Linked DNA regions of Homo sapiens. The protein of the gene in region 1 interacts with the protein of each later gene in a pairwise test. Each region holds a gene or a part of one and is shown on either strand. Other genes may lie near its edges. The genes, in order: ZFHX3, TRIML2, CSTPP1 and POU2F1.

What was found.
Region 2: the proteins of ZFHX3 (region 1) and TRIML2 interact in binary tests that used the Homo sapiens proteins (3 or more experiments, as listed by UniProt).
Region 3: the proteins of ZFHX3 (region 1) and CSTPP1 interact in binary tests that used the Homo sapiens proteins (3 or more experiments, as listed by UniProt).
Region 4: the proteins of ZFHX3 (region 1) and POU2F1 interact in binary tests that used the Homo sapiens proteins (3 or more experiments, as listed by UniProt).

What each region holds. Positions count from the first base shown.
Region 1 is NC_000016.10:72,953,931-72,961,518, forward strand, and holds part of ZFHX3 (zinc finger homeobox protein 3), read right to left. Parts: exon of another isoform or gene 6,265-7,588; 5' UTR 6,216-6,264; coding exon 3,497-6,215; intron 3,473-3,496; exon of another isoform or gene 3,317-3,472; coding exon of another isoform or gene 3,250-3,316; intron 1-3,249.
Region 2 is NC_000004.12:188,092,109-188,099,696, forward strand, and holds part of TRIML2 (probable E3 ubiquitin-protein ligase TRIML2), read right to left. Parts: intron 7,068-7,588; coding exon 6,927-7,067; intron 6,172-6,926; coding exon of another isoform or gene 6,097-6,171; intron 5,239-6,096; coding exon 5,216-5,238; intron 5,054-5,215; coding exon 4,953-5,053; intron 915-4,952; coding exon of another isoform or gene 874-914; exon of another isoform or gene 682-873; intron 1-681.
Region 3 is NC_000011.10:46,932,514-46,939,938, reverse strand, and holds the start of CSTPP1 (centriolar satellite-associated tubulin polyglutamylase complex regulator 1), read right to left. Parts: upstream 3,134-7,425; coding exon 3,088-3,133; intron 1-3,087. UniProt on the Homo sapiens protein: Regulator of the tubulin polyglutamylase complex (TPGC) that controls cytoskeletal organization, nuclear shape, and cilium disassembly by balancing microtubule and actin assembly.
Region 4 is NC_000001.11:167,370,776-167,378,363, reverse strand, and holds part of POU2F1 (POU domain, class 2, transcription factor 1), read right to left. Parts: intron 6,448-7,588; coding exon 6,328-6,447; intron 4,257-6,327; coding exon 4,068-4,256; intron 2,336-4,067; coding exon 2,209-2,335; intron 1-2,208. UniProt on the Homo sapiens protein: Transcription factor that binds to the octamer motif (5'-ATTTGCAT-3') and activates the promoters of the genes for some small nuclear RNAs (snRNA) and of genes such as those for histone H2B and immunoglobulins.

The DNA.
Region 1 (7,588 bases):
GATGACAGGCAAGTGAAAACTCCCTTCGAGAACTATGCCTCAGAGAAACAAGCCCAGGGCTTAGAATCCTACAAATCCGCTAATCCAGCTGCCACAAAGTGGGGGAATCTCACCCAGTTCACAAACAGGAGCAGGGCCCCTATAAATAAGAAACTGGGGCTGGGCATAGTGGCTCACACCTGTCATCCCAGCACTTTGGGAGGCCAAGGTGGGCAGATCACCTGAGGTCAGGAGTTCAAGACCAGCCTGGCCAATGTGGTGAAATCCTGTCTCTACTGAACACACAAAAATTAGCTAGGCATGGTGGCGCATGCCTGTAATCCCAGCTACTCGGAAGGCAGAGGCAGAAGAATTGCTTGAACCCGGGAGGCAGGGGCTGCAGTGAGCCGAGACTGCGCTATTGCACTCCAGCCTGGGCGACAAGAGTGAAACTCCATCTCAAAAAAAAGAAATGAAAAAAAGAACTTGGCAGGTCCTTAGTCTTGAGCCACACTGGATACGTGGTCTTGGAGCAGGTCCCCATCTCTGGGTATGCACCTAACTCTAACACTGGAACTGACACCTTGACACGTGAGCCCACCCATCAGCACATCCTCAGGAAGGTGCATGGATTCAAAGGCACACTCTGGAATGAAAGGGAGACGAAGGGAGCTGCTAAACCTTGTGCAGGTGTCCAGGGGCTGGCTGGCTACTTGGGAAACACACAGCCACCCCGACAAGCAACCCCTTTCTTGGTGCTATGCTAAACTTCAGAGTCGAAAGGAAGGTTTGGGAGGATGTTCACAAGGCCTCAAATCTAATGTGCTGTCTACAAAGAGCAGCAGATCCGACTGTACTAGGCGAAGGAGCCCCAAGCCTTTCCTCAAAGGCTTCTGAAAAGAAGCAACCCCACAATCAGTGTCTGTTTGATGATACTAAAGAGGGCTCTGCCAAGGGAAGTATGAAAACAATCACCTTGTAAAGAGGAGTGTATTTCACAAAAACATTTTTCTCCCTGCAGAACTCAGTCACATCTAATAACACCTACAGCCATCTTATAAATGGACCATGGGGAAAAAAAACCAGTACAGCCACAGCTAGAACTGAAAGTTATGGCTGTTTTTATTTGCATAAGTTGGTTTCTCCTACTGAGGTCATACAACTCAAATTCCAAGTCTTTTGGACACTTCCTATGGCCCCCACACCCACTCGAGCTTCTGGCATAAAGGATTTGTGGCTCTCACACCTTCTCAGCAGTTTTCGCGGCCCAAGGAAGGCACAGGTTTCCAGGGACTCCCCGTGGCCGACAAGTAGTGACACTGGAAATTCAAGAGCCCTTTGTGACTGAGCTGGATAAATCCTTTGGGAGGAAGAGCTCCAGTCTAAGAAATATGGTGTGGCCCTTCCATGTGTGTCTACAACACAGGGCTTCATTCTTCTGCTCCTTCTGAATCTGCCGCAATGCCCAGGACAGTGCATGATGCCCCAAAGACTCACAGACACTTGGTGTGAAAGCGAAATATTTCTCTACTTCTCAATACAAGCCTTAGTTACCTGTTCTTAAGGTAATTAAAAAGCCTCACTTTAGGCTGGGCACAGTGGCTCATGCCTGTAATCCCAGCACTTTGGGAGGCCAAGGCGGGCAGATCACCTGAGGTCAAGGGTTTGAGACCAGCCTGGCCAAGATGGTGAAGCCCCATCTCTACTAAAAACACAAAATTAGCCAGGCATGGTGGCGGGTGCCTGTAATCCCAGCTACTTGGGAGGCTCTGGCAGGAGAATCGCTTGAACACAGGAGGTGGATGTTGCAGTGAGCCGAGACGGCACCACTCACTCCAGCCTGGGTGACAGAGCGAGACTCTGTCTCAAAAAAAAAAAAAAAAAAACCCTCACTTTGACCCAACATGAACCTACCCACGTTCCCACGTTCTGTCTTCATTCCACCTCCGTTATGTTTGATTTGCTCCAAGATCTACCTCCCGAGATTCTATGACTCCTTCTAATTCCTACTGGCTTAAAGAAAACCTTAGAGTACTCACTCCCATCTCCTGGTGTGCATGGTTCACCCTGGTGACAAATAAGACGACCAGTGCTTGTGCATCCACAATTAGCCAGTTGGTTTCAAATACCCTCAAATCATTTGGTAATAAAGGATCAACAGGCAAATATTTCAAAATGGAAAATGAGATTAAAGTACTAAGGATTAAAAACTGAATACATAGCAAGAAAAACCAATGGAATGCTTTGAAATATAACTCATCGGCAACAATTAGCACTCAAACACCACACAAATAAACACTTGCCAACTGCTGAGGCCTGGCCCTGCAGTCATCTAAGCCATCCTGGAAAAAAAGTCCTCACTGACACTCTGTTGCCAAGAACAACCTATTCCCATGTCAATAATGGCATATTGCTTAATTCAGGCCATTGTCACTGGTCCCACGAAGTCCATTAGCAGCGTCACGGGATGGGACGCAGGCAGGATCCTGTTTGAAGCATACCGGGTGGAGGCACGAGTGGCCCAACTATCAGAAGGTTCTCATGAAACCCATCTGTAGATTGTTTTGGCAGCAGCAGCTATCCTCAAAGTGGCTGTGGTTCGTTCTACGTAAAAACTCAAAGTTTTTAGCACCCAAATCCTACACTCTTGGTCCTATTCTAGATATTGTAAGCCAATTGGTAAGACTGGGAGCCTGAACAGAGCCAAATCAGCTTCTCTAAAGCAGAGGTCATTCTTCCTGGCAGCGAAGGCTCCGCTAACCAGGATCTAACTGCTATTAAAAGTTAACTTTCCTTGATGGACAATTTTTACAACTTACTCATTTTTCATCTCTCACACCCCTCACAACAGTGCCACTGGGGAATTTAATTCCCAATTAATTTCCAACTATTCTAATCACCAAGTACTCATCAAAAATAAGCAAAAAAAAAAACATCTCTTTCATTGAGGTCCTCATAAATATACAGAGAACTTTGAGAAGTCTATCTGGATGGTTCCCTAGCTCGGCACAGAATCAGCCTTTAGTTATCTGAATAACGTACACTGTGGTTCCGAATTCCTATTATTAAGATGATTGTCTCTACTTAAATCATTGAGGTAACTGTCCCTAGTCCTCTTATTGAAATGATTGCCTCAGCTACAGTTTCCTGTAAGTTTCAGTAAATATTCGATGAAACCCCAAAGTTTTAGGTGATTATAGTGATTTTTCAAATTGAAAGAAGAGACAGAGAAAGAGAGAATGGGAACAGAAAACTAGAGGAAACACTCACATTTTAATCCTGGCCCCACGTAGCCAGAGTACAAGCATATCTCTTTTGAATGCATAAACTCTTCCATATGTACACACACAGTTCAAGGGATTCTTGAGAATACTTGATTGTAAGACACTCCAGTTTACACAAAAACCACTCGAGAAGACCAGAGTCAACTGAATCCACAGGACTATCTCACCCTATTCACCATTCTCCCTGGTTAAACTCCTATCATGAAAACAGACAAACACGTAGTCATCCTCACCTAGAGCAGGCGTCATGGCGGCCATGGGCCCGGCGGGATCCAGCTGGAATCCGCTCATCATGAACTGGGCGTCCGAGGCAGCACTGTCCATCTTCAGGTTGGGCAGGTTCATGTTCTGGGCCAGGTAGTATTGGTAGAGCTCGGCCTCGGCGGGTGAGGGCAGGCTGCCGAGGCCCAGGTGGCGGTTGTGTTGGATCTGGGTCATGTTCTGTTGCAGTAACATCATGTTATGCATGTGCTTCTCACTGGTCATGTGAATGCGGAGGTTCCTGGCCACGTTGGTCTCATAATCACACACCTCGCACCGCCAGGTGGGTTTGGTTTTTGGTTTGGTCGGCGAGGGGGCCCCGCAGGAGCTACTGATATTGGCTGCCGCCGCCGCCGCAGCCACCGCCGCCGCCGCCGCCCCGGCAGTGTGGCTGAAGACCTGCTCCCCCCCTCCATTCTGCAGGTTCTGCATGTTGTTGAGATGCTTGTCAGACTGCATATGAATACTGAGGTTGCCTTTGGTAGTTGTGGAGTAGTTACACACCTCGCAGCGGAAAGGCTTGTAACCACACGTGTAGCTCTCGCCTCGTGCCAGCCGGGGGTGGGGCTGCCCGCTTTTGCAGTAGACACAGGAGCCCCCCGGCTCCGGGTGCTTCTCCTTCATGTGTGCCTCCAGGGTCTGCTGGTACTTATAGTGCCAGTTGCACTTGGGGCACTTGAGTGTCTTACACGAGTTACGAGAATGCATCATGGTCATGTGGCCGCCCAGCGAGCGGGAGGAGCCCAGGACCGTGTCGCATTTGGGGCACTCCACGCCACTCCCCGAGGGGCACTCCCCAACCCCAAGCTCGCAGAGGGAGCCAGCGTGCTGGTGATGGGGAACGAAGCCCCCATCGTCACCCTCTGTGCTTTCATTTGGTTCTGGTGCTGTGGCATTGTCTTTATTGGCACTTTCGTCAGCGAAGTCCAGCCTCCTGCCGCCCTCTGCCACATTGGCCCTGACGCCCTCACTGTTAAAGCTTAAACGATTCCTCCTGTTCGCACCATCAAAGACAACAAAGGAAGAAGCAGAATTAGAACTAGTAGAAGCTGTGCCCCTCGACAGGGTCTGGAGCACGTTAGGCATTAAGGGGGAGTTAGAAATGCTTTGGTTTGAGAGAGCAAGGTCCTTTTTGCTGCTACTACCTGCTGCGGCCCCAGGCTCCTCATGGGGCCTGTCCTCCAGTTCCTCATCCAACTCGCTTGGAAAGAGTCCTTTGCAACCCTCGTCTTCCTCCTCCTCTTCTTCCTCCTCCTCTTCTTCCTCCTCCTCCTCCGCCTCTTCCTCCTCCTCTTCCTCCTCCGCCTCCTCTTCGGCTGGCTCTACCTTCTCAGAGAAGCAATCCCCGTCGCCCACTTCCTGCTTCTCTCCTTCTGCCGCCCCAGAGTCCTTGCCCTCTGAGGATTTGGTAGGACTGGAAGCCAGAGGCCCCAGGGGGACTGAGGTAATGGGGGTCTTCAGTACCGAGCTGGTGAGCCCGCCAAGGTTCAACAGGGTGCTGGGGGTCAAGAGACCAGCCTGGGGCTGCTCGGGGCCAGCGGCGGAGCCCGCTGGGAGAGCTTCCTCCCCTTCCATTCGAATGCCACTAAATTTACCATAAAAACTGTGTCCGGGGCCTATGAGGTTAGCTGTGGAAACTAAAGGGTGTTGAAAGTTTTTGTTTTTTGGTTCCAGAAAACTTACAAGGGGTTCCTTGTCTTTGCCGATCCCTTGGATGATAGCGGAGATGTTCTTATTGCTAAGAATTTTCCGCTCGTCTTCGCTCAGGGTCATTCGATGGTCATGCACCGCGTGGGTCACAAACGAACGGACGTACCCAAAGGAGAGTTTGCACAAGAAACACATCAGGATGGGCTTCCTCTTGCCATAGAGCACAAAGCCATCGAATTTGGACAGGTCCACATTGTTGGGAACATCTTTGGATACGCAGGAGCTTTTGGCAGAACCGTCGCTGTTCAGGTAATCCTTGTTGCTTTTGTGTCGCACGTCAAACACGCGGAAGCTGTGCAGGACGGGGCTGAGCCCCGCCAGGGCTGAGGTATTCGGGAAAGCCTGGTCTGGGCCCTCAAACCATTTCCCGAAGGATGAGGCTATGTGGAAAGTGTTGATGATCTGCGGGTACACGGGTGCAGCACACGAAGGGTCCCCTTGCTTGCCCCCCGCGCCAGGGAGAGAGTTCAGGAAAAGCGAGGGGAGAGGCCCACTGCCACTGCCACTCCCACAGGCGCCCCCGCCCTGGGTCAGCTGGCTCAGGCTCTCCACAATGTACGCGGAGCCGTCCGGCTGGTAGACGATCTCCCCGGCCAGGTTCTCCACGTCACTCTCCTCGTCCCCCTCCTCACCGGTGTCGCTGGCGCTCTCCTCTCTCAGGGGTGGCGGGGGGCGCGCGCTGGGGCAGTGGTGCTCCATGTAGGTCTGGAGGCTGGCAAAGGAGGCCGAACATTCGTTGCAGGTGACCTCCTTGCTGGCGGGCTCGGAGGGGGGCCCGGCCGACGCGGTGCTCTCCGCGAGGCGCTCATTGAAGGGGGCCCTCAGGCTGTCCAAGGGCCCGTGGCTCTCGCCTGTGGACTGCTCCATGCTACTGGGTTTGTCAGGGAGGTGGGTGCTGTTGAGTTCAGTCCATTGCTGGTGCTGAGGGATACCGCACCCATTGTCCTTCCCCGAGACGACGGGCGAGTCACAGCCTTCCATGGTAAGGCCTGCGTGGAGCTTTCATTGCACCCAGTACGGAGGCTCGGACCTGAAGGGCAGAGGCAAGGGGGGAGGAGGGAGAGAGGGGAAAGAGAGAGAGAAAGGAAAGAGGTTAGGAGGGCCGAGGCTGAGGTCCTACCGCACGGAGCGCTCTAAGAGGCTTCTGTCCACAACACAGAGACACAGGGCGGAGGGCGGGCCTGGGGACACTGCCCCACACGGTCCAGCACACAGGGGTGGCATGGCCGGGTCAACAGCCTGAGCGAGGGATATGGGGAAAGAAGGCCAGGAACAGCCCTCTTCGGCTTCGAATTGTCACCGCTCTGCCCCTGAAGACTAGCGGGAATTTCCATTCTTTGCCAGCATAGCTTCGATGGGCCACAGTGGAGAACGGACGCGTCATCTCTCCAGCCCTCTACGAGGTCACAGCCACAGCCCTACCACTTATGGACAGCTCACACGAAGTCAGCCCCGACTCCGCGCACTGTCTGTGGGTCAGGGGAACACAGGGGAGGGCTGAGAAGAGGGAGGTTCAATGTCCCTGGAAAAAGGACGGTAAAGTGGGATAACGCTCATGGATTTAGAACAATTGCAGCCGTCGCTTTTACTGACCATGGTTCTAGTTTGAGAAGTTCAAAGAAGGCGGGTGAGGACCCTGAGGTTCACAGGGCAGGTGTACAGGACTAGACACACTCCGAAAAGTCCTCTCCAGATCTGGGAGGCGTCAGTCCCATTTTACAAGCAGTAAAACAGAGGGGCTTCAATCTAAAAACTGGCTCAGTGCTAATCTCACCACCATGAAACAGAAGAAAAGATGGGTCCCCAGATTCCTGTCTCCTCCACCCATACCAGTCAAGCTCCCTGGCCTGTGACTCTAGCTGACTTCAGACTAAAACTACGTAGGTGCAAAACGTGAGCTTGGTATTTCCAGCAGGAATGGACCAGACTCTGGATCTGCCAACACCCCCTCCAGCAGCTTCTATCTGGCCCTGGCTGGAGGGAGTGCGTTCCCCACGTGCCTGGTGGTTTTTGCTATCAAGGATCTGAGCAGCAAGCCGAGACGGCAGCTGGGCTCGGCGAGCCCCAGCTCCACACCTGCCTCTTAGTTATTAGTCGCTACCCAACCAGCTGTCGTTCAGCCCTGGGGCTTTTCCATTTCCGACTCCAAAGTGCCACTGAGCTGAATGTGCCCTCTGAGACCTCATGTCCCTGGGGAGGGAGGCATCGGATCACGGCCGCTCTGCTCCTGCAGTAATATCATCGCAGGGGCGATCATTCCGTCTGGCCCTGCTCCTACAGGCAGCTCAGCACCTCGCAGAGCCCTGATCCTTTGCCCGTAGGTCCCCAGCCACCATTCCCCTGCTGCTCCTCCT
Region 2 (7,588 bases), on another chromosome or scaffold:
ATGGACCTCATGGAGGAAAAAGTCCATAAGATATGGAAAGGGACACAGTCTACCTGAGCGGGAAGAATAAAACAAAGATGAATGAGCTAAGGAAGGTTTAGAAACACCTTCATCCAACGTGGCGCGGTGGCTCACGAGGTCAGGAGTTCAAGACCAGCCTGGTCAAGATGGTGAAACCCCATCTCTACTAAAAAAATACAAAAAGTAGCCGAGTGTGGTGGCAGGCGCCTGTAATCCCAGCTACTCATGAGGCTGAGGCAGAAAATTGCTTGAACCCAGGAGGCGGAGATTGCAGTGAGCCGAGATCACACCACTGCACTCCAGCCTGGGCGACAGAGCAAGACTCCATCTCAAAACAAACAAACAAACAAACAAACAAACAAAAAACAGCTTCACCCCAGAGACGGTCAAACTGTCCTGGTGCCAAGTTCCATCCAGATATCACTTGGGGCCCAACCCTGGTCTTCTAGATCTCCAAGCCTGGAGCGGCCACAGGAGTCGGCCAGCAGCAACTCATTCGTGGCCCTCCCGATGCCGTACTCTACACATCTTAAATATCCCCACAGGGTGACATAGAGGCCTGGAAATTGCTGACAACAGGCCCTGGACATCAGGCATTACATCAGATAATTTATCAGCGGAGGATGGAACACCTGTGTGGACCCTCCAGAAACTCACGCTGAGAACACGCAGGCTCAATGAATTCCTCACACCTGCATGAATACGTCTTCTTCCTATCTCTGACTGTTCCTCTCATCTCTTTCTGCCCAGCCTCTAACTATTGTGATCTTTCAGGGCTTGGTCCTGGGACTTCTTCTTTCAAGTAGTATATTCTCCTTCACTGCCCCCAGGTAACTGTGCATAGCTTCAGTTTTAAACATCTTCTCTGTGTTTGTGACTCGCTCCATAAACAGCTAAATACCAGTTGGAAAAAACACAGGAATTTCAAACATAACACACCCAAAATGGAACTTCAACGCCAGCCCTCTGCAGTCTCTACTTCTCAGTTCACAGCTCCCTCATTGCTTCAGTTGTCTAAGCCATAAACCTGGAAGGCCTTTATTTCCTACTTTCTGTAATGTGGAATCCAGCTTAATTTCTATTATTTGACTGAAGTAAATTTAATGAACTTAAATCTCTGAATTTGAAGCCCAATTCACATTATTAGGGTGGTCTCAACAGCTACACGTCTTGAATTTTTAAAAAATTGTCTGAGACTCTCAGTATTTCCAGGAGACTGGCAGAAACAAATGCAAATTATCTCTGGAAAAACGCACAGCTGTGGCTGGGCACGGTGGCTCACGCTTGTAATCCCAGCATTTTAGGAGGCCGAGGAGGACGGATCACTTGAGGCCAGGACTTTGAGACCAGCCTGGCGAAACCCCATCTCTACTAAAATTACAAAAATCAGCCAGGCCTGGTGGCGGCCTGTAATCCCAGCTACTCAGGAGGGTGAGGCAGGAGCATCGCTTGCATCTGGGAGGCAGAGGTTGCAGTGAGCCGAGATCATGCCACTGCCCTCCAGCCTGAGCAACAGAGCGAGGCTCATCTCAAAAACAAAAACAAAAAAGGTTGAAGAAACAACAGGAGTATCTCAAGAGAAAAAGAACTTGATAAATTCAACATTGATTCATAAAAATTCTTAGTAAACCAGAAATAAAGGGGGACATCCTCAATTTGATGAAAGGCAGCCATTAAAAAAAACTATAGCTAGGGCCAGGTGCGGTGGCTCACGCCTTTAATCCCAGCACTTTGGGAACCTGAGGCAGGCAGATCACGAGGTTGGGAGTTCGAGACCAGCCTGACCAACAGAGTGAAACCCCGTATCTACTAAAAATACAAAAATTAGCTGAGTGTGGTGGCACTCAGCTACTCGGGAGGTTGAGGCAGGAGAATCGTTTGAATCTGGGAGGAGGAGGTTGCGGTGAGCTGAGGCTTCGCCATTGCACTCCAGCCTGGGTGACAGAGCCAGACAGCATCTCAAAAAACAAAAACAAAAACAAAAACAAAAACAAAAACAAAAAACACAAAACAACAACAAAAAGCGCTATAGCTGTATCAGAATTTAGAGTGAAAAGACTTAATGTTTTCTTTCTTCCTAAGATCGAGAATAAGCAAGTGTCCACTCTCACCACTTCTGTTCAACACACTGCAGGTCTGAGCCAGTATAATAAGGCAAGAAAAATTCAGAAAAGGCTTACAGACTGGAAAGGCAGAAATAAAGCTATCTATACTCATATACTGCATGACTTTGTAGAAAATCCTGAAGGATCTATTTATAGAAATCCACTGTCTAATGAGTGAGTTTTGCATAGTTATAGGGTACAAATGTCAATATATATAAAACAATTCCATTTCTATATACTTGCAATGAACTAGAAATGAATGAAATGTCAATTAGAAATTGATATTTTAAAATACCGTTTACAGTGGCTGTAAAAAACATAAAATACTTAGGGATACATCTCCAAATACATATAACATTTTATGCTGAAAGTGACAAAACACTGATGAGAGAAATCGAAGACCTAAATAAATGGAGATATTTTGTATTCCTGGACTGAAAGCACCAAATATTGTCAAGATGTCAATTCTCCCCAAACTGATCAACGGATTCAATGTAATATGAATAAAAATCCCAGCGGTCCATTTTGAAGAAGCCAACAAGCTGATTTCAAAATTTATGTGGAAAAGCAAACAACCTACAGTAGCCAAAACTATTCTGAAAAAGAATAAATTTGGAGAATGCACAGTACCTGCTTTCAAGACTTCCTACAGAGTTATCAATCAAGCCAGTGTGCTATTGGCAAAGGGAAAGAGTCAACCATCAATAGACCTATTAGAGTCACAAATAGACGTGATCGCATATACCAGTTGATTTTCAACAAAGGGGCCAAGTAAATTGAATGGACAAAGGTAGTGTTTTTAACAAATGAAACTGGAACAAATGGATACATGTGAGTCAAAAAATAAAAATAGAAGGTGGGGGGAGGAGAGGGTTTGCACCATTCTGTGAACTGTATACAGATATTAACTCTCAGTGGTTCATAGGCCACAATGTAAAACCGAAAACCATAAAACTTTTGGAAGGAAATCTTTGTTGGCTTTGGCAAAATTTCTTAAATAAGACACAAAAAGCAGAAGTCATAAAAGAAAAAACTTGATAAATTGAACTTCATCAAAATGCAAAACCTCTACACTTCAAAAGACAGTATTAGGAAAATGAGAATACAAACCATGCTGGGAGGAAATATTTGCAAAATTTATCTGATAAATGAATGCTAAACAGAACATATAAAGAAATTATAAAACTCAAGAGACATACAACCCAATTTAGAAAAGGGGTTTGTACATGTATTTCACCAAAGTTGAGATAGAGGGAAAACAAACACATGAAAATATGCTCAGCATCATTAGTCATTCTGGAAATGCAAATTAAAATGACATACCACTACCCATCTATCGGGTCGGATGTAGTAAAACAAACTGACAATACCAAACCCTGGTGAGAATACAGAGTAACTGAATCTTTCGCACGTTATTGGTGGGAAGGCAAAATGGCACAGGCAATTTGGAAAACAAGTTTGGCAATCCCACCCTTAGACAGTCAATCAAGAACTATGAAGCTGTGCCCACACAAAAATCTGCTGCTAATATTTACAGCACAGAGCTGGAAACAACCCATGTCCGTAGAATTGCAAAAGGATAAGTAAATTATGGTATATTTATACAATGGAATATTATCAACAATAAAAAGGAACAAACTACTGATACACGAAGCAGCCTGGACGTTCTATATGTCAACTGCAGTATGCTGTCAGCCTCGAAAGGCCACACACTGTAGGATTCCATCGATAGGACATTCTGGGAAAGGCAAAGCTATAAGGACAGGAGATATAAACCCTTTGTTATACATGCTGAATTTCTTCCCCAGAAGTTTTAAATTTTTAAGCAGTGGAATCTGCCTGCAATCATGTTTCATGGCTGGGGAACTGGTAAAGAATCTGCAGCCAGGCGTGGTGGCTCACGCCTGTAATCCCAGCACTTTGGGAGCCTGAGGCGCGTGGATCACCTGAGATCAGGAGTTCAAGACCAGCCTGACCAACATGGTAAGACCTCGTCTCTACCATAAATACAAAAAATTAGCCAGGCGTGGTGGCTCACGCCTATAATCCCAGCACTTTGGGAGCCCAAGGCGCGTGGATCACCTGAGATCAGGAGTTCAAGACCATCCTGACCAACATGGTAAGACCTCATCTCTACTATACAAAAAATTAGCCAGGTGTGGTGGTGCATGCCTGTAATCCCAGCTACTTGGGAGGCCGAGGCAGGAGAATCACTTGAACCCAGGAGGGGGAGGTTGCAGTGAGCCAAGATCGCACCACTGCACTCCAGCCTGGGCAAAGTGAAACTCTGTCTCAAAAAAAAAAAAAAAAAAAAAAAAAAAAAAGATTTTGCATGGGAAGAGCTTTCATATGAGATCATACAGTTATTTTTTTGATCCTTATCTAATATGTATAACATATTAAGCTCTCCAGTCTCCTAAAATTTTTATTTATTTATTTTAAGACAGAGTCTCATTCTGTTGCCCAGGCTGGGGTGCAGTGGTGTGATCTCAGCTCACTGCAATCTCCACCTCCTGGGTTCAAGCAATTCTCCCACCTCAGCCACTCAAGTAGCAGGGACTACAGGCACACGCCACCACAACTGGCTAATTTTCGTATTTTTTGTAGAGATGGGATTTCACCATGTTGGTTAGGCTGGTCTCGAACTCCTGGCCTCAAGCAAACCGCCCGCCTTGGCCTCCCAAAGTGCTGGGATTACAGGAGTGACCCACTGTGCTGGCCTAAAATTGTTAAACTACTGGAATTTGTTTTCATTTATGGCAGGATGGTCACCTGATTCTCAAATGCAGAACAGTGCCCTGTGAGTATTCACATGTGTCAACTTACTCTGGAGTACTCTGAACATGCTGCTGAGTCCTCTTATGTGGCATAAACTCAGGTCTGTGATATGAGCGGGCTCCAGATGCTCAAGCAGCAGTGACTTGCTCCTGAAGAGAAAGGACAGCCTCAGTCATCTGCACAGACCACAGGCCCCTTAGTCTACTGGATGGATCCCATTACATCCTACCAGCAAATGCAATCTCCCTATCTCAATCAACATCTTACTGGACTCTGATTCTCACCCAATTGTATCCAAAATGAAAACTCACCTTTCTAAAGAGTATTTTGCATTCTAAGGGAAAGAAAAGAGACCAGGTTACTACTGGGTTTTTGAGCTGTTTTTGCAATCTGTGCCCAGGAAAATATCCTCTTACAATGAACTCAATTTCCATGTCATTTCTTCAACCTCATAATGCTAGTTATCAGATGAACAAATTCTAACATGGAAACAGAAAAAGTCAGAAAAATGCATGAAATCATTTTGTCGTAGTCCCAAGGGAAAGGTTTTCTATCCCTCACCCCAGGCATCTTACTCAGAGCCATCATTTCTCAGTCTTCAGACGGGAGCATCTATCTGCTTTCCATGCAGGGGGTGGCCAGAGTTCAGCAGGTGAAGGGGCCACTGGCTGGGAGGGCAGTGGGAGCCAGGCAGAGCCACACCTGCCTGCATGCTCAAGAACTGAGCTGCTTCCTAAGGATTTACCTACAGACGCTTTCCAGATGAGCGCATTCATTGCAATTATAAGCCCAGGAGAGGGATATGGACAGTCTTAAAAAGATAGTAAGGCCAGGCGCGGTGGCTCATGCCTGTAATCCCAGCACTTTGGGAGGCCAAGGTGGGCGTATAACCTGAGGTCGGGAGTTTAAGACCAGACTGACCAACATGGTGAAACCCCGTTTCTACTAAAAATACAAAAATTAGCTGGACATGGTGGTGGGCGCCTGTAATCCCAACTACTCAGGAGGCTGAGGCAGGAGAATCGCTTGAACTGGGGAGGCGGAGGTTACAGTGAGCCGAAATTGCGCCACTGCTCCAGCCTGGGAGATAGAGCGAGACTCCGTCTCGGGGAAAAAAAAAAAAAAAAAGGTAACCCACTTTCTGAAAGGCAACGTATGTTACTATACAAAATTCAAAATATGCAATACTTACCATAGACTGAGTAGCTTCTGCACAGCAGAAATTCATTTCTCGCAGTTCTGGAGGCCGAATTTCAAGATCAAGGCACTGGCAGATTCAGTGTCCGGTGAGGGCTCCATCCCTCCTAGGTAGCCTCCATCTCCAGCCTCACAAGCTGAAGGGGTGAGGTCTTCCTCGGCCTCTTTTATAAGAGCCCTAATCCCATTCACAGGGGCTCTGCCCCCAGGCCCCACTCACTACCCAAAGGCCCCACCTCCCAATACCATCGCCTTGGGGGAGAGGATTTCAACATATATATTTTGGAGGGACACAAACATTCAGATCATAGCAGATAATCTCACCCTTGTTTCAAGATTATCACAGATGACTATACATTTATTAATTTTTTGCCAGAAAGTCTGTGAATGTTAGCAACCACACATGTATATGTGTGTGTATATATACTTATTATCCAAAGATCAAACAAAAAGCAGTCTGCATCTTTCTTTTTCACTTAATGAGTGCTTGAAATACTGTTAGTGCCTATAGAGCTGTTTTATTCTTTATGATCACAGAATATTTCATTGCATGGAGGTATTAACCACATTGTGTCACATCTCAACCCTAACTTACTGCTGATAATTTTAAGGTGAGAATTCATCTCATGAAGCAGCTCCACACTATCCCACAAAGCTATGACCATTCCTAAAGCTTTTGGCAGCTGAAAGAAAGTCATGTAGCCTTCTTTTGTGGTTGAAGATCATTGGATATTGTGTTCTGACAGCAACCCCTAATGAGTACTGTCCACTTCTCATTTCTCAAATACTGGAATGAATTTTATTTTCTTTTTCCCAGCATCTTACCTTGAGCAATGCCAAGGTGCCTTCCCCACACTTTTTCTCAAGCTCCACGATGAGCTTTAGGAGGCTGCGGACCTGTTCAGAAGCCCTGGCTTCACTCTCCTTCAGTTTCTCCATGTTCTCTCTCCCCACACGGCCCAGTCTCTGCAGAAGCATTTCTTCGTTACTATTCAACAACCTCAAGTTCAGGAACAAGAGTTCGGTAACTTCTCCTATAGATTAATTCAACCATGTTTTTAAAAACCTGCTTTTCGGTTGGGCGCAGTGGCTCACGCCTGTAATCCCAGCACTTTGGGTGGCCAAGGCCGGCGGATCATGAGGTCAGGGTTTGAGACCAGCCTGGCCAACATGGTGAAACCCAGTCTCCACTAGAAGTACAAAAATTAGCCAGGCGTGGTGGCGGGTGCCTGTAATCCCAGCTACTCAGGAGGCTGAGGCAGGAGAATCGCTTGAACCTGGGAGGCAGACGTTGCAGTGAGCCAAGATCGTGCCACTGCACTCCAGCCTGAATGACAGAGCAAGACTCCAAATCAAAAAAAAAAACCAAAACCAAAACCAAAAAAAAAAAAACCCTGCTTTTCTGCCTGCTACCCCAGGAACAGACATAATTAGGCAAGGCCATGATATTCTTCTGCTGAAGCAGGATTCCTCTCAAGAGACAGTTG
Region 3 (7,425 bases), on another chromosome or scaffold:
AGATGGTGCCACTGCACTCCAGCCTGGGTGACAGAGTGAGACTCTGTCTCAAGAAAGAAAGAAAAGAAAAAACAAAAGAAACGGAAATTACTTCAAGATGTATTAAATGAAAAAGTATGCACTGTATACTCCTTTATGTATATAATAAACTCTGGAAAGATACACAGGAAAACAATAATAGTGGTTACTTTTGGGAGGCTGAGGATGGATGGAAACTGGGCAGATGGAGGCAAAGGGGTAGGCTTTTCACTAAAAACATCTACCTATCTATCTATCTATCTATCTATCTATCTATCTATCTATCTATGCATTTTAGAGGCAGGGTCTCACTCTATCATCCAGTCTGGTCTTGAACTCCTGACCTCAAGCAATCCTCCTACGTCAGCCTCCCAAAGTATTGGGATTACAGGCATGAGCCACCATGCCAGGCCTAAAAAATACTTTGAATCAAGTTTCCATATTACCAACCTTAAAAAATATTTTAAAATTAATTTTTAAAATAAGTTAAACAAAATGTAAACCAGAATTGTTTTTCATTTAAAAAGATGTTGGCTGGGCGCGGTGGCTCACGCCTGTAATCCAAGCAGTTTGGGAGGCCGAGGTGGGTGGATCACCTGAGGTCAGGAGTTTGAGACCAGCCTGACCAACATGGAGAAACCCATCTCTACTAAAAATACAAAATTAGCCAGGCGTGGTGGCGCATGCCTGTAATCCCAGGTACTAGGGAGGCTGAGGCAGGAGAATCACTTGAACCCAGGAGGCGGAGGTTGGGGTGAGCCCAGATCGCATCATTGCACTCCAGCCTAGGCAACAAGAGTGAAACTCCATCTCAAAAAAAAAAAAAAAAAAAAAAAAAGATGTAAGCCAGGTGCAGTGACTCACACCTGTAATCTCAGTACTTTGGAAGGCCACAGTAAGAGGCTTGCTTGAGCCCTGGAGTTCAAGACCAACCTGGACAACATAGTGAGACTCTTTCTCTACAAAAAATTAAAAAATTAACCAGGGATGGTGGCATGTGCCTGTAGTCCCAGCTACTTGGAAGGCTGAGGTAGCAGGATCACTTGAGCCCGGAGGTTGAGGCTGCAGTGAGCCGTGATAGTGCCACTGCACTCCAGCCTGAGTGACAGTGCCAGACATTGTCTCAAAAAAAAAAAAAAAGAAGAAGAAAAAAAAAAAAGATGTGCATGGTACATCCATACAATGGAATATTATTCAGAAATAAAAAGAAATGAGTTATCATGCCACAGAAAGACATGGAGGAAACTTAAATGCTTACTGCTAAGTTAAAGAAGCCCATCTGAAAAATTTACACACTGTATGACTCCAACTACATGATATTCTGGAAAAGGCAAAACTTTAGAGACCATAAGATCAGTGGTTGGCAAGGGCTGCAGGGGGAGGGAGAAGGATCAATAGGTGGAGCACAGGGGATTTTTCAGGACAGTGAAACTATTCTGTATGATAATGGAATGGTGAATACATGACATGCATTTATCAAAACCCACAGAACTGAACAACACAAAGAACCCTAATGTAAACTATGGACTTTAGTTAATAATATGTATCTATAATAATATATCTATATAATAATAATAATATATAATATATTATTATATATTATAAATATATATGTTTATCCATTGTAACAAATGTACCACACTAATGCAAGATGTAAATAATAGCGGAAACTGTGAGTGAGGGAGACCCAAGGTATATGGGAACTCGCCGTACTATCTGCTCAATTTTCTGTAAACTTAAAACTTCTCGCCATGTGCAGTGGCTCACGCCTGTAATCCCAACACTTTGGGAGGCCGAGGTGGGCGGATCACCTGAGGTCAGGAGTTTGAGACCAGCCTGACCAACATGGTGAAACCCCGTCTCTACTAAAAATATAAAATTAACCTGGCGTGGTGGCGCATGCCTGTAATCTCAACTACTCGGGAGGCTGAGGCAGGAGAATCGCTTGAATCCGGGAGGCAGAGGTTGCAGTGTACTCCAGCCTGGGCAACAGGAGAGAAACTCTGTCTCAAAAAACAAAACAAAACAAAACAAAACGTCTTTAAAAAAATAAAAGTCTATGAATTATTTAAAATGTGTATTGTGGCCGGGCGCGGTGGCTCACGCCTGTAATCCAAGCACTTTTGGAGGCTGAGGCGGGCAGATCACGAGGTCAGGAGATCGAGACCATCCTGGTTAACACGGTGAAACCCCGTCTCTATTAAGTATACAAAAAAGTAGCCGGGCGAGGTGGCGGGCGCCTGTAGTCCCAGCTACCCGGGAGGCGGAGCTTGCAGTGAGCCAAGATCGCGCCACTGCACTCCAGCCCGGGCGACAGAGCTAGACTCCGTCTCAAAAATAAAATAAAATAAAATGTGTATTGTGTGCATATGTGTGTGTGTGTACATATCTATGCGTGTGTGTGCCTTTTTTCATTCATTAAATGCCTTATACACTAAAGATGCTCAACAAAGTACTACATATACAGTCTTAGCTCAAGAGCCAAGTCAATATCTCAAGTTCTGTTGGAGTGGGCAAATCCGGTTCTGATCCTAGCGCTACCATTTTCTAGCTGTGTGGCCTAACTTAACGCAAGTTACCTCTTCAGCCCCAGTTTCTCCACCTGCAAAACTGGAAGAAAACACGGTAATTCCTCCTAGGGCTGTTGAGAAATTCAAATGAAGAATGATGCATGAAAAATGCTTAGCACAGTGCCTAATGAAAAAGAAAAGCTCGAAATGTTCGCTGACTGATTTGGCACTTGAGGTTCCAAGGTTATTCTTACTCCACTACCAGCATATCAATAATACCCCAACAGGGCCCCAAATCCTCAACGCCAACCTGACCCATTTGAACACAATCCACATTGCCTGAGTTCCAGCCCCTACACTTCAAACATTCTTTACTTCCCAGGTGCTTTTTTCCTTCCTGCTCGGCCTTACAGGCTCAGGCCCTGGAACCCCCGCCTCTCCGCCCCTCCCCATACCACCCGGACCCGATCCCACTCAGACCCCGCCCCCGCCTCCTCCCAGACCCTGGCCTAATTCGTCTGCACGTCTTTCCCTCCCCAAAGTTAAAGGGGGTTCCTACCCAGATACTCGTAGTCCGGTAGGGCTAGGCGCTCCGGACTCAGCATCCTTTGACCGGGGTGGCTTCAAAGCTCCAGCTCTCCGGCTTCCGGAACCCAGGTTGCCGTCTCTCTCCGTTGCCATGGCACCCACGCGGCGGAAGGGGGACGGGAGCTGGAGGAGGTGTCACACAAACAGTCTCCGTGTCGCAAAGTGGAGCTGGCCACTCAAGTTCCGGGGGCAGTCGCTTCACGATGGTCCAGGTTTCTTTGGACTCCCATTCTTGAAGACTTGGTTTTAGAGGAATCTGAGATGAAGAATTCTTTTGAATCCGTTATGTTTCCCAGTGTCGAAGAATTACTGTCAGCCGCCCATATACGCAGTTTCTGAATTTCATAACTATCCCTGCTTTTATACACTGTTTATCCTAACTCAGTAATAGCCCCCGCCCTTTGGCCCCCATAAACACTTAGTATCCCATTAGCTATTTTTATCTCTTTGGTATTTACTATCTTAAATTGCTACAAAGTGCTTACGTATGCATATACCCTGGATGCTTCTAGAGGTCAGAGATGTGTCTTTTCTGCCTATGACGGCTGGACACACAAAAGGTACTCATTAAGTCCTCTGAACTAATTGCCATTTCTTCTCAATTCTCACTCAGTCGCCCAGGCTGGAGTGCAGTAGCGTGATCTCGGTTCATTGCAACCAGCGCCTCCCGGGTTCAAGCGATTCTCCTGCCTCAGCCTCCCAAGTAGCTGGGATTACAGGCGCCCGCCACTCCGCCTGGCTAATTTTTTGTGTTTTTAGTAGAGATGGGGTTTCACCATGTTGGCGAGGCTGGTCTGCAAACTCTTGACCTCAGGTGATCCGCCGACCTCAGGTGATCCGCCTGCCTCAGGCCTCCCAAAGTGCTGGGATTACAGGCGTGAGCCACCGCGCCCAGGCTCAATTCCTTTTTATCTTTGGTTCTTCTTTCTATTCCTAGCCCTTACTATTTGGTACCTTTCCCAGGTGTCTTTCCTTTTTCCTACCAAGACATTGCTCTTCTTGAGGGAGAGGGGCTGCAGAAACGAGGACACCAGTTAGATTTTTTTCCCTATATGCCCAATTGCTCACTTCTTCTTTAAGAGAATATTCACTGGTTTTCAAGTTCCTAAATATTTCTTTTCGCCCCTCTCCACTCCTGACAACAGGTCAGAGATCTGTAGCACTAGACACAGTTCAGACATAGCAGAAAAAGCCACTCTGTCCTCACTTTTTTAGTGCCCTCCCCCTCCAACAAGGTGAGGTTTGTGAAAAAGAGACAAAGAAAACAAAATCAAGCTATCAAAGGAATGACTGGGAAACCAGTAGACCACCTACACTGGGAGGAAAAGGAAAGAGGAGGTTCTTCTCTTTGTGTTCCGAGTGGCCTATTCTTAGCGTCCTCCAGTAAGGAGCCTCAAACCTCCTAATTCTTGCTTTCCCTTAAAATTGTATATGTGTCTCAATTCTAGGCTCCTGTGAGTCACTCTAAGTTTGGATGTGGTGAGGTTAAAAGGACAGAGCCAAAGTAGGAGCAGGGCTTAGTGTCTTGAGGCAAATTTACTAATTTGGTATTTGGTGTGAAGTCCAGCAAATCTGATTTTTTTTTAATTGCCTTCTTATCTGCTTCCCCCATCTAGCTTGAGGTTATGGGAGGTTCATATGTTCCATAACTGTGGCTTTTTACTATTTTATTAATAAGGTAATACCATAGTAATTATTAAGTGATAATTTTACTTTATTCCCAAGCAACTTGTAGCTATTTGCAAATAATCTTATTTGTCCTCATAAAAACTTTCTGCTGAGGTGGGCGGATCACGAGTTCAGGAGTTCGAGACCAGCCTGGCCAATATGGAGAAACCCCATCTCTACTAAAAATACAAAAATTAGCCAGGCGTGGTGGCGCACGCCTGTAATCCCAGCTACTCAGGAGGCTGAGGCAGAAGAATCACTTGAACCGGGGAGGCAGAAGTTGCAGTGAGCCAAGATCGCACCACTGCACTCCAGCCTGGGCGACACAGCGAGACTCCGTCTCAAAAAAAAAAAAAAAAAAAAAAAAAAAACCTTTCTAAGGCACTTTTCCATTTTCTAACTAGGGAAACTGAGGCACAAGTCACAACAGTGACTTGTCTAGTGACTTGTCTAGCATCATGCAGCCACATAGTGGTAGAGCTACAACTGGATCTCAGCTATCCCAACATCCAGGCCAGTGGTCTGACCACTAAACCACACAGTCTCTTTTTTTAGGGTTTGTTGACCTGGCTTTTATTTATTTATTTTTCCTTTTGCTCTGCCCTGCTAGCAACTGGAAGCTCCCAGATAGAAGAAGATAATGTTGAGTCCAGGCTGAACATTTGACATCGTCTTATTTGTGGAGCATTATCCTGGGACTTGGCGGGTGCTGGCTGCTGGGGTCTGTGTGGTGGAGCTGGGAACCAGCCCCAAGAATATAGCTTTGTTTGGGCATTAACCCATTTGTGGTTATAATAATGATAAGTTTCAGCACCAGTGGCGCCCGACTGTTAATGACTCAAAGAAGGCTAAATAAGAACAAGATGTCATCTCTGGAGCAATTTGTAGGTTTTTCCTACAGTTCCATCCCTTCCATAAAAATCCGAAGGACCCCTGTATTCAAAGTCAGTCTTCCACTCTGAATGTCCTGAACAGTCTATTGAGGAGGAGGACTTAGAAAAGTAGGAGGTTGCTAGAGTAAGGCTTCACAAAAATTTGAAGTTTCACCGAAATAACAGGTGGCCTTACTGGTAGTGGAATTACTGACTGTTTACATTTTTCTTCTTTATATTTTTCTATAGTCTTAAACTTTCTATAATAGGCATGTATTATAACCTGAAAACAAATAATAAATGAGTGGCCTGAAAATCTTTAAAATTTTTTAAGCAGATGTGATGACCTTCCAGACAGTGTTTGTTTTTCCCAAAAAGAAGCCACTGCTAGATTTCTCTTCTGTCACAGATTACATGATAATAGATTTTTGAAACACATTGGTTATTGGTGAAATTTTTCAATGAAACATACACTACATCAGTCTTAAGAAGAGTAGAAATATATAAGAGTTGTTAAAATTAAGTGTATTTTTTGTGACTTGAATGTGAAAGAAAGAAAAAAAATGTCAGCCTTTGATTTAAATTGACTTTTCAGGTTCTTAACTTATCATAATATATTTCTTAAAAATTTACCAAAAAAAAAAATCACCGAGGTAAATCGGTAAGTCAGAAGACAACTCCATAATCCTGAAAAGAGGCAAGTGATAAGATATTGATGATAAATAGAGCATCGGATGTTAAAGGCAGTACTACAGCATGACGACTGTAAACATCAAATTCAGAACAATAAGAAAAAAACAAGAGAGAGAATATATTGAGATGGTTTTTGTTTTTGTTTGTTTGTTTTTTGAGACAGAGGCTCACTCCATCATCCAGAAAGGAGTGGAATGGTGCAATCTCTGCTTACTGCAACCTCTGTGTCCCAGGTTCAAGCCATTCTCCTGCCTCAGCCTCCCGAGTAGTTGGGACTACAGGTGTGTGCCACCACACCCGGCTAATTTTTGTATTTTCAGTAGAGACAGGGTTTCGCCATGTTGACCAGGCTGGTCTCGAACCCCTGACTTCAAGTGATCCACCCGCCTCAGTCTCCCAAAGTGCTGGGATTACAGGTGTGAGCCACTGCACCTTTTGTTTTTTGTTTGTTTGTTTGTTTTGTTTTTTAGTATATATAAGGTCTCCCTTTGTCACCCAGGCTGGAGTGCAATGGCACAATCACAACTCACTGTAGCCTGGAATTCTTGGGCTCAAGTAATCCTCCCACCTCAGCCTCCTGAGTAGCTGGGATCACTGGTGCATGCCACCACATCCAGATAATATTTTTAATTTTGTAGAGACAAGGTCTTGCTAGGTAGCCCAGGCTGGTTTCGAATTCCTGAGCTCAAGCAATCCTCCTGCCTCAGTCTCCCAAAGTGCATGAGCCACTGCACCCAGCTGAGACATCAATTTATCAGATTATAATTTCTGATTTTATAATGAGAAAATTAATAGACATCTCTGGCTCTGCAGAAGACCTATTAAGAGATTGATAGGGAAGAAAATCCTCCCTATAATTGAAGACTATAGAAAAGCAAACGGTGAATACACTAAACAGTTTTAAACTTCAAGGAAGCAATAAGGAAAGAATAAATGCAGGCTGAATTATTGCTATAAAACAGGTTCAAGAAACTAGGACAAGCTTTTATCAACTGATCAAGCAGAAAAGATGCTAAAGGCAAAGTAGCTACTAAGAAATGCAGGTCATGAAATTCATGCTGAGCTACTAGGCTCTG
Region 4 (7,588 bases), on another chromosome or scaffold:
CTTGGGAGGCCGAGGCAGGAGAATTGCTTGAACCTGGGAGGCGGAGGTTGCGGTGGGCCGAGATCGTGCCATTGCACTCCAGCCTGGGCAACAAGAGTGAAACTCCATCTCTTAAAATCCCAAAAAACAAAGAACAAAAAAACTCAAAAAATAACAGATGCTGGCGAGGTTGTGGAGAAAAGGGAACACTTATACACTGCTGGTGGGAATGTAAATTAGTTAAGCCATTGCGGAAAGCAGTTTGGCGATTTCTCAAAGAACTTAGAATTGCCATTTGATACAGCAATCCCATTATTGGGTATATACCCAAAAGAATATAAATTTTTCTGCCATAAAGACACATACCCATGCGTATGTTAATTGCAGCACTATTCACAATAGCAAAGACATGGAATCAACCTAAATATCCATCAACACTAGACTGGATTAAAAAAAATGTGGTGCATATACACAACGGAATACTATACAGCCATAAAACTTTCAGTACATATGTACACAAAGAAGGGAACAACAGCCACCAGGGCCTACTTGAGGGTAGAGGGTGGGAGGAGGATGAGAATCGAAAAAACTACCTATCAGGTATTATGCCTATTACCTGGGTGATGAAATTATCTGTACATCAAATCCCTATGACATGTAGTTTATCTACATAACAAACCTGAGTGTAACCCTGAACCTAATAGTTTAAAAATAAGAAAAAAAGTAATTGGGAGGTTGGGGTTAGGGCTCAGGAAACTTTTCTAATTCCTCAAGTGATTTTTTAATTTTTTTATTTTTTAGACGGAGTCTCACTCTGTCACCCAGGCTGGAGTGCAGTGGTTCAATCTTGGCTCACTGCAAGCTCTGCCTTCCCAGTTCACACCATTCTCCTGCCTCAGCCTCCTGAGTAGCTGGGACTACAGGCGCCTGCCACCACGCCTGGCTATTTTTTTTGTATTTTTAGTAGAGATGGGGTTTCACTGTGTTAGCTAGGATGGTCTCGATCTCCTGACCTCGTGATCTGCCTGCCTCGGCCTCACAAAGTGCTGGGATTACAGGCGTCAGCCACCACGCCTGGCCATTAATGACTCTTAAATAAATCAAATCTTAGGAAGCACTAAGCTATAGGATTTAAGGTCAAACTCCTGGAAACTTAATCTAAGGTTCTTTAATGATCTGGTCTCTGCTAATCTTTCTGGGTTCAAATTTCACTATTACCTGCATATGCAAACTTATTCTGCAGTTGTAAGGCACTACTTATAGTTCTCAAACACAGCTTATTGATTTTTCTTCCATGTTTCTAAGGTTTGCAAATGCTGTTCATTTTCCAAGACTGACATTCTCTCTTTTGTAAGCCTATGAATGTATTTTCCCAAATTCACTGTGAAGACTTATCTGAGCACAAAGTTACAGGGGTCTCTTTGCTTGGTTCCCATAGCATTGTGTGCATATCAAATCTAACATAATTTAGGTCTGTTTCCCTGCCACTAAATTGTGAGCCCTCTGCAAGTAAATACTGAATTACTTATCTCTGAATCTTGAATATATGCTAGAATAATTATTTCATGACAAAAGATTTTGGAATGAATGATCAAGAAGAAAAAAGGCAAAAAAACCCACTCAGAAATAATAAAGAATCATTAGTGATGCACTAATGTTCCTTGGGTTGAAGCCTTGATACTCTGACATTCTTCACCCTGATTACATTAACTGACCTTACAGACGAGTGGTTGTTTGATATATTAATTATATAACATTTACCACTCAAATGACTCAAAGATGTTTTTTATAACTCACGAAATTTGTAGTTTCTATTATAGCAGTCTTCCCTCCTTAAATTAAAAAAACAATGGTTAGAAGCACATACTTTCAACACTCAGTCTATATTCTTTGAATACACTTCCATGAAAAACAATCAAAACACTAGCAGCAACTTATCCAATTTATGTTTGGCATGTTGAATAATTTCACTTAGACTTTTGGCCAAACTCTTGGTTCTTCCTTAGTGATTAAGCAGATGAATGGCAGTTCAGGGCAACCTTCAATAATGTGGTATTTATGACAAAAAACAAAACAAAACTTTTTTTAAACGAAAGTTTATAATCAAATAAAATTTAATAAAAACATTGGTCTAATAGTTTCAGGGCCAAAATGATAGTAGTTCATGCATGTGTAACATTCAGCGAACAGCCTTGGTATACCACTAATAAGCTCTAAGGAGGAGCTCACCCTGCTGGCCCTGGGGCGTCTGTGAGATGATAAACTGCGCTGGCTGCAAATTGGTGGTTGGATGCACCAACACAAACTGTTGCAGGTTGAGATTCTGCTGTTGAAGCTGTTGCAGTTGTTGAAGATCCTGAAAAATTGGAATTAAAACATGGATTGGAGATTCTGAAATAAAAGTTCGCTTAATTATAAGGCTTCCAGCTGATGACTTCTGTCACATCCAAATAAAGAAGAGTAAATACTTCGCATGCTTTCATATTCCAAACAGGGTATGCTCTGTGTGTGCTTGACAAAGCACGTGAAGCAACCTGGAGCCTCTGCAACTGACTATTTTTGTGGACTGACATATATTGTTATGATAAGCCTAATTTTCAATGTTTCTTTAAAATTCCCTCAGAACAAATATACTTCTGTTTTTTATCATGTAAAGACCAATATGGGTTTTAAAAATCAAGTGAGAAAACAGTTTTTAAATATTTGATTGATCTTTCTCTTAAATAAAAATTGATCGTGTTATGTCTGAATTTCCATCAATAAAGGGCCTATAATGACTTATGACATTTGACAACAGCTTATCTAACTCAACTGAAAAATCAGTATTCAATTTTTTTGCCCTTTTCCACATGTTCTAAAGTATTCAATTTTTTAAAACCAAAAATAGCTATCCATATAAAAATTTAATCCCTAACAACAATAGCACCTTACATTGGCCTACTGTTTTATAATTTTCAAAGTGTTTTCATGAACGTTATCTTATTTAGACTAATGTTAATATAGGGTCTCACAGCTTAGGCACTAAAAACATTTATTTGGTGATGAGAAAGTGGCCAAAATCAAAACATTATCTTGATAAAGATTGTATAAAGACTAGTCTGATATTTATTCTCTACTCTTACAGTTAATTAGTTCTTTTTAAATGGTTAGTCAAACTCTTGCTACAAGTTAAGTCCATTTCTGAGTCTTTTCTGAGACGGATAAAGACAGCTGTCTAACAATTAGACTCATAATAACTCTTCATATATTTTACTGATATATCTACTTATACCTTTTTCCTCTTCTTGAGATTAAAGATTTTATTTATTTTCCTCCTTGGTACTATTGTGTATGCTTCTTAATTTTTTTTTTTTTTAGTGGCGCGATCTCGGCTCACTGCAAGCTCCACCTCCTGGGTTCACGCTATTCTCCTGCCTCAACCTCCCGCGTAGCTGGGATTACAGGCACCTGCCACCACACCTGGCTAATTTTTTGTATTTTTAGTAGAGATGGGGTTTCACCGTGTTAGCCAGTATGGTCTCGAACTCCTGACCTAGTGATCCGCCCGCCTCGGCCTCCCAAAGTGCTGGGATTACAGGCGTGAGCCACCGCGCCTGGCGCTTCTTAAATAAATTTTTATTATCTCTAGATACTTTGCCCTAAAATGTGAAAATTGAAACCAAACAACATTCTAATGCAATAATGTTAATCACTCCATAGCAGAGATGACTCACTGTCTCACACATGGGTGGCAACATTCACCGCAGAGCACATGAAAAAAAATCCATGTCTGCTGTAATTAGCTAATTAAAATAAATACAGTAATCCCCTGCTTCAAAAATATGCCAGCTAATTATTCAAGAATTGTCACTTAATATAAAGTCAGTTATTCAAATAATCAGCTATATGTTTACAATATCAACTACAATAAGCAAACAAACATTATTTCTAATTCAGTGGTAAGGAAGGGTACCGCTTACCTCACTGATCTAGAGCTCCTCAGGCAGTTAAGGCCCCACACTAACAATCAAAAAGTTAATCTAACATTAAATAAAACCTGCCACTTTATTCCTCACTTGCTGCCCCAGCTATTGGAGTTCCTCACTCACCTGTGCGATCTGTATGGGCTGAGACAGGGGGATCTGCGTCATGGGCGTGGCAGCAGAGGCGGAGATGGTGGCTCCAGCAGCACTGTGCTGCTGGCTGGCGGAGTGCTGCTGCACTGCAGCAGCCAGCAGCTGTGCCTGTGCCTGTGCCTGCTGGAGTAGTAACTGTTGCTGGGCAGGCGTCAAAGTAAGCTAAACAAAACCAGAACACATTATGGGAAAGTGTTGAAGGAGAAAGTCTCCTAATGCAAGCCAACTGCTTTAAAATAGGTAACTCAAATGATATCAGTCCCCAGCTACCCAACTTCACTTGCTTAGCAGACAGCTAAAATGTTCATCAGTGATCAAACTACCATTACTAGCAGAACATTTAAATTAAAATGGTGGTCCCCACTATGGACTTAATCATTCAAGCTTGTCCAGGGCCCTAGGGTTTGGGCAAAAAAGTAATTAACTAGTAAGCAAGAAAAAAAAAAAAGAATCACCACTGACAAGATATGAAAATACATTTACACACAACCAAACAGCAAGTGATTAGTCAGATGAATGAGGAACAAGGATGCTGGATATAACCAAGGAAAGAACTGATAAGGCCCAGCTGCTTCCCATTAGCATGAATCCCTGCCATATTCCATCATTTCCATTAAGTCCAAAGATATGACTAAAGAATATGAGCTCCATTTGTTTCTTTTCCAAGTCTCCCTACAGGCCCCTCCCTAACACAATCTTTTCTGTTATTGAAAGCACTGAGTCTCTGCAACTTTACATCTCCTTTCCAACACATTATCTCTATGAAACAGGTGGTGATAGCCGTTCTCTTTACATGCAAATGAACCCTAATGCCCAGGTTTAACAGAAGCTCCAGCCAAAGGAACCTAGAATCCCAACTCCCTCTTACTATTGTAGACACTAGTCACCAAAAACAAGACCCAAATAGTAAAGTAGGAAATGTATTTAGAGCATATTTAAAGTTGTTTTCATAATGCAACTTATTTCAAACACACTTAAAGTAGTAAATGTGTTCTACTTTTCTTTTGGTGACAAGTTCTGATTGATCAAACAAGATGGAACCATAATTTTCTGAAGTATATGTACAGTCACTTAGTGCCACAACCTCCTCTAAAAGAATCAAACACAATTTGTGCATTAGAAACATAAGGCTCAAAACCAAACCATTCAAAAACTCAATACCCTTCAAGGGATATGTGTGTATATAAAGTATAGATATATTTTTAATTTTTACATAATATATATATACATACATCTCTACTCATGGGATTTTGTGAACAATTTTGCAACAGTTCTTAAAACAGTTGTCCACTGACAAAACACACTTAACTGGGAAAAAAAGAAAGAAAGAAAGAAAGAAAACAAAAAACCCTAGGAAATTCTTGGGAGTTAATGTGATGTGAATTGAATAAAAACTATTCCTTACCATTGCCCTAAACCAACCCCCACAAAGATAATTTAATACACAAATTTTCAACATTGGAAAAATATTTTGAATGGTGCCTTAGAGAAAAGACAGCTGAAAACTTAAAAGCTTAATATAGCCAAACAGGCCAATTTATTAACCATAAAAAATAAATGACAGAACGTCTCAGCCTTTTGGCTAAGATCAAGTACAAAAATAAACAATATTTGTTGAATGCTACATGCCAAGCACCGTTCTATAAGTTTTACATGTATTATCTCCAATCTTTACAACAGTAATGTGAGATAGGTATTATTAGTATCTCCATTTAACAGAAGGAAAACAGGTAGAGGGAAATGAAGTAATTAGGCCATACGGTAAGTTGCAGAGCTAGGATATGAAGCCACATGCTTTATTTTAGATCATTACACAGTAACTTAAAGAAAAATGTTTTTCTTTTGCAGGTACTAATCCATTCTTTAACTTCTACCCTGCAGTGATGTCTTAATGCCAAATGGATAACTGCCATTTTCAGTGTAATGATCTCAACCATATGATAATTACTCCATTGCATGATGAAGCAACACCTGAAACAGGGGTTTAATAAGGTTTTTAATTTATCCAGAGCATCCACAATTCTAATAAAAGATATCCTGAAAACTTACGACAAAGATAATTCCTTTTTCAGAGCAACTTACTACCTACAGTGTAGGAAGTTCCTTAAAGACACAATAGTGCCAGGCATAGCCATGTTACTACCAGCTATGGTGAACAATTCTAATCAGCTATTGGCCAATGGCAGTTCTGACACAGAAAAAGTTTGTTATAATTCTCTCAGTGAACACTTACCCCAGTTATCTGTCCTCCAGCTAGCATAAGCTGGGTCTGGGGAATGGCTGCCTGCACTGAAGGCTGCTGGGAAGGCTGGCTTGGCTGCTGCGAATCCCCCGATTCTTCATTAGATTTAGACTGAGGTGGGGTGGGTAGGAAATAAAAGATTGCAAATGGTTGATTAAAAGAAATGTACTTAAAACCCCATCTTTTAGGAATCATTTAAAACATGAGCTTATTCAGTCATGAGTTCTGGTTTACCTCCTTTCTTTTATTTGTATTTTCCTAGTTTCACATACCAAGTTTTTAAACTTGTTAATTCTAATGCCAGCAAAGCTGCTATTACAATTTTTAAAAATAAAGTCATCCCCCACAAATTTATAGATTTTTTTCATAGCCCCCAATTCCTCAACTCTAGAAATAGGGGGTAAAGGGAAGAATATATTTTCAATTCACCTCTACATTAGACCTTCCAAACCAATATTTTAACATACACCTGGTGGTCAGTCTGAAACTTCTCCATATACCATCTCAGAGAATGATCACTTGATCCACAGAACTTTCCACCTAATATTTTACAGAACGGTAAATCTAGCAACTCCCATCAACTAACACACAAGCTCAGAGAGAAAATGCTGCAGTCAAGAGAGAGGGGCACGAAGAGAAAATTTTACGGTAATTAAAACTGGTTATGCAAAGCATTAAAATTCTGCATAGATTTGCATATTTCTCACCACCTGTTTTGGGGACTGCAGCAAGGCTAATTAACATAAATGCTCTGATTAATTCTGCCAGTCATTGAGAGATAATTACAGTGCAGGACTGTAAACATTCTGCACTGGAGATACAGCCTGTTTGCCAACATCTCTCTAAGGGATGAAAGTTTACCATGGCAACCAAGGCAATTTTCCGCCTCCTCTCCCTCAGAAAGTAAGGTCACATTATCTCTTTTTCTTTTCTCTCCTTGTTCCTACGTGTTACTAGGTCCATATTCAACTGGGTTTCATGAAATGCTCAACCCAAGGTCTTTAGTCATTAGCAACACTGAAATCAATCTTCCATAATACTGTCTTTCCCTCTTGACTGCTAGTTACCTAAACACTATAATGAAAGGAACCAGCAGGTTGATAGAAATATTAAGAGGGCAATGTCTAACACTTGAACTTTGCATGTTGTGCCATATGGTTCAAAGAAGGAAAGTGGCCAGATTTAAGTTTTAAGATTTTGATTGTCTATCCACCAACATCTACAAACAGGTTTAATTACAATTATTAGAAGC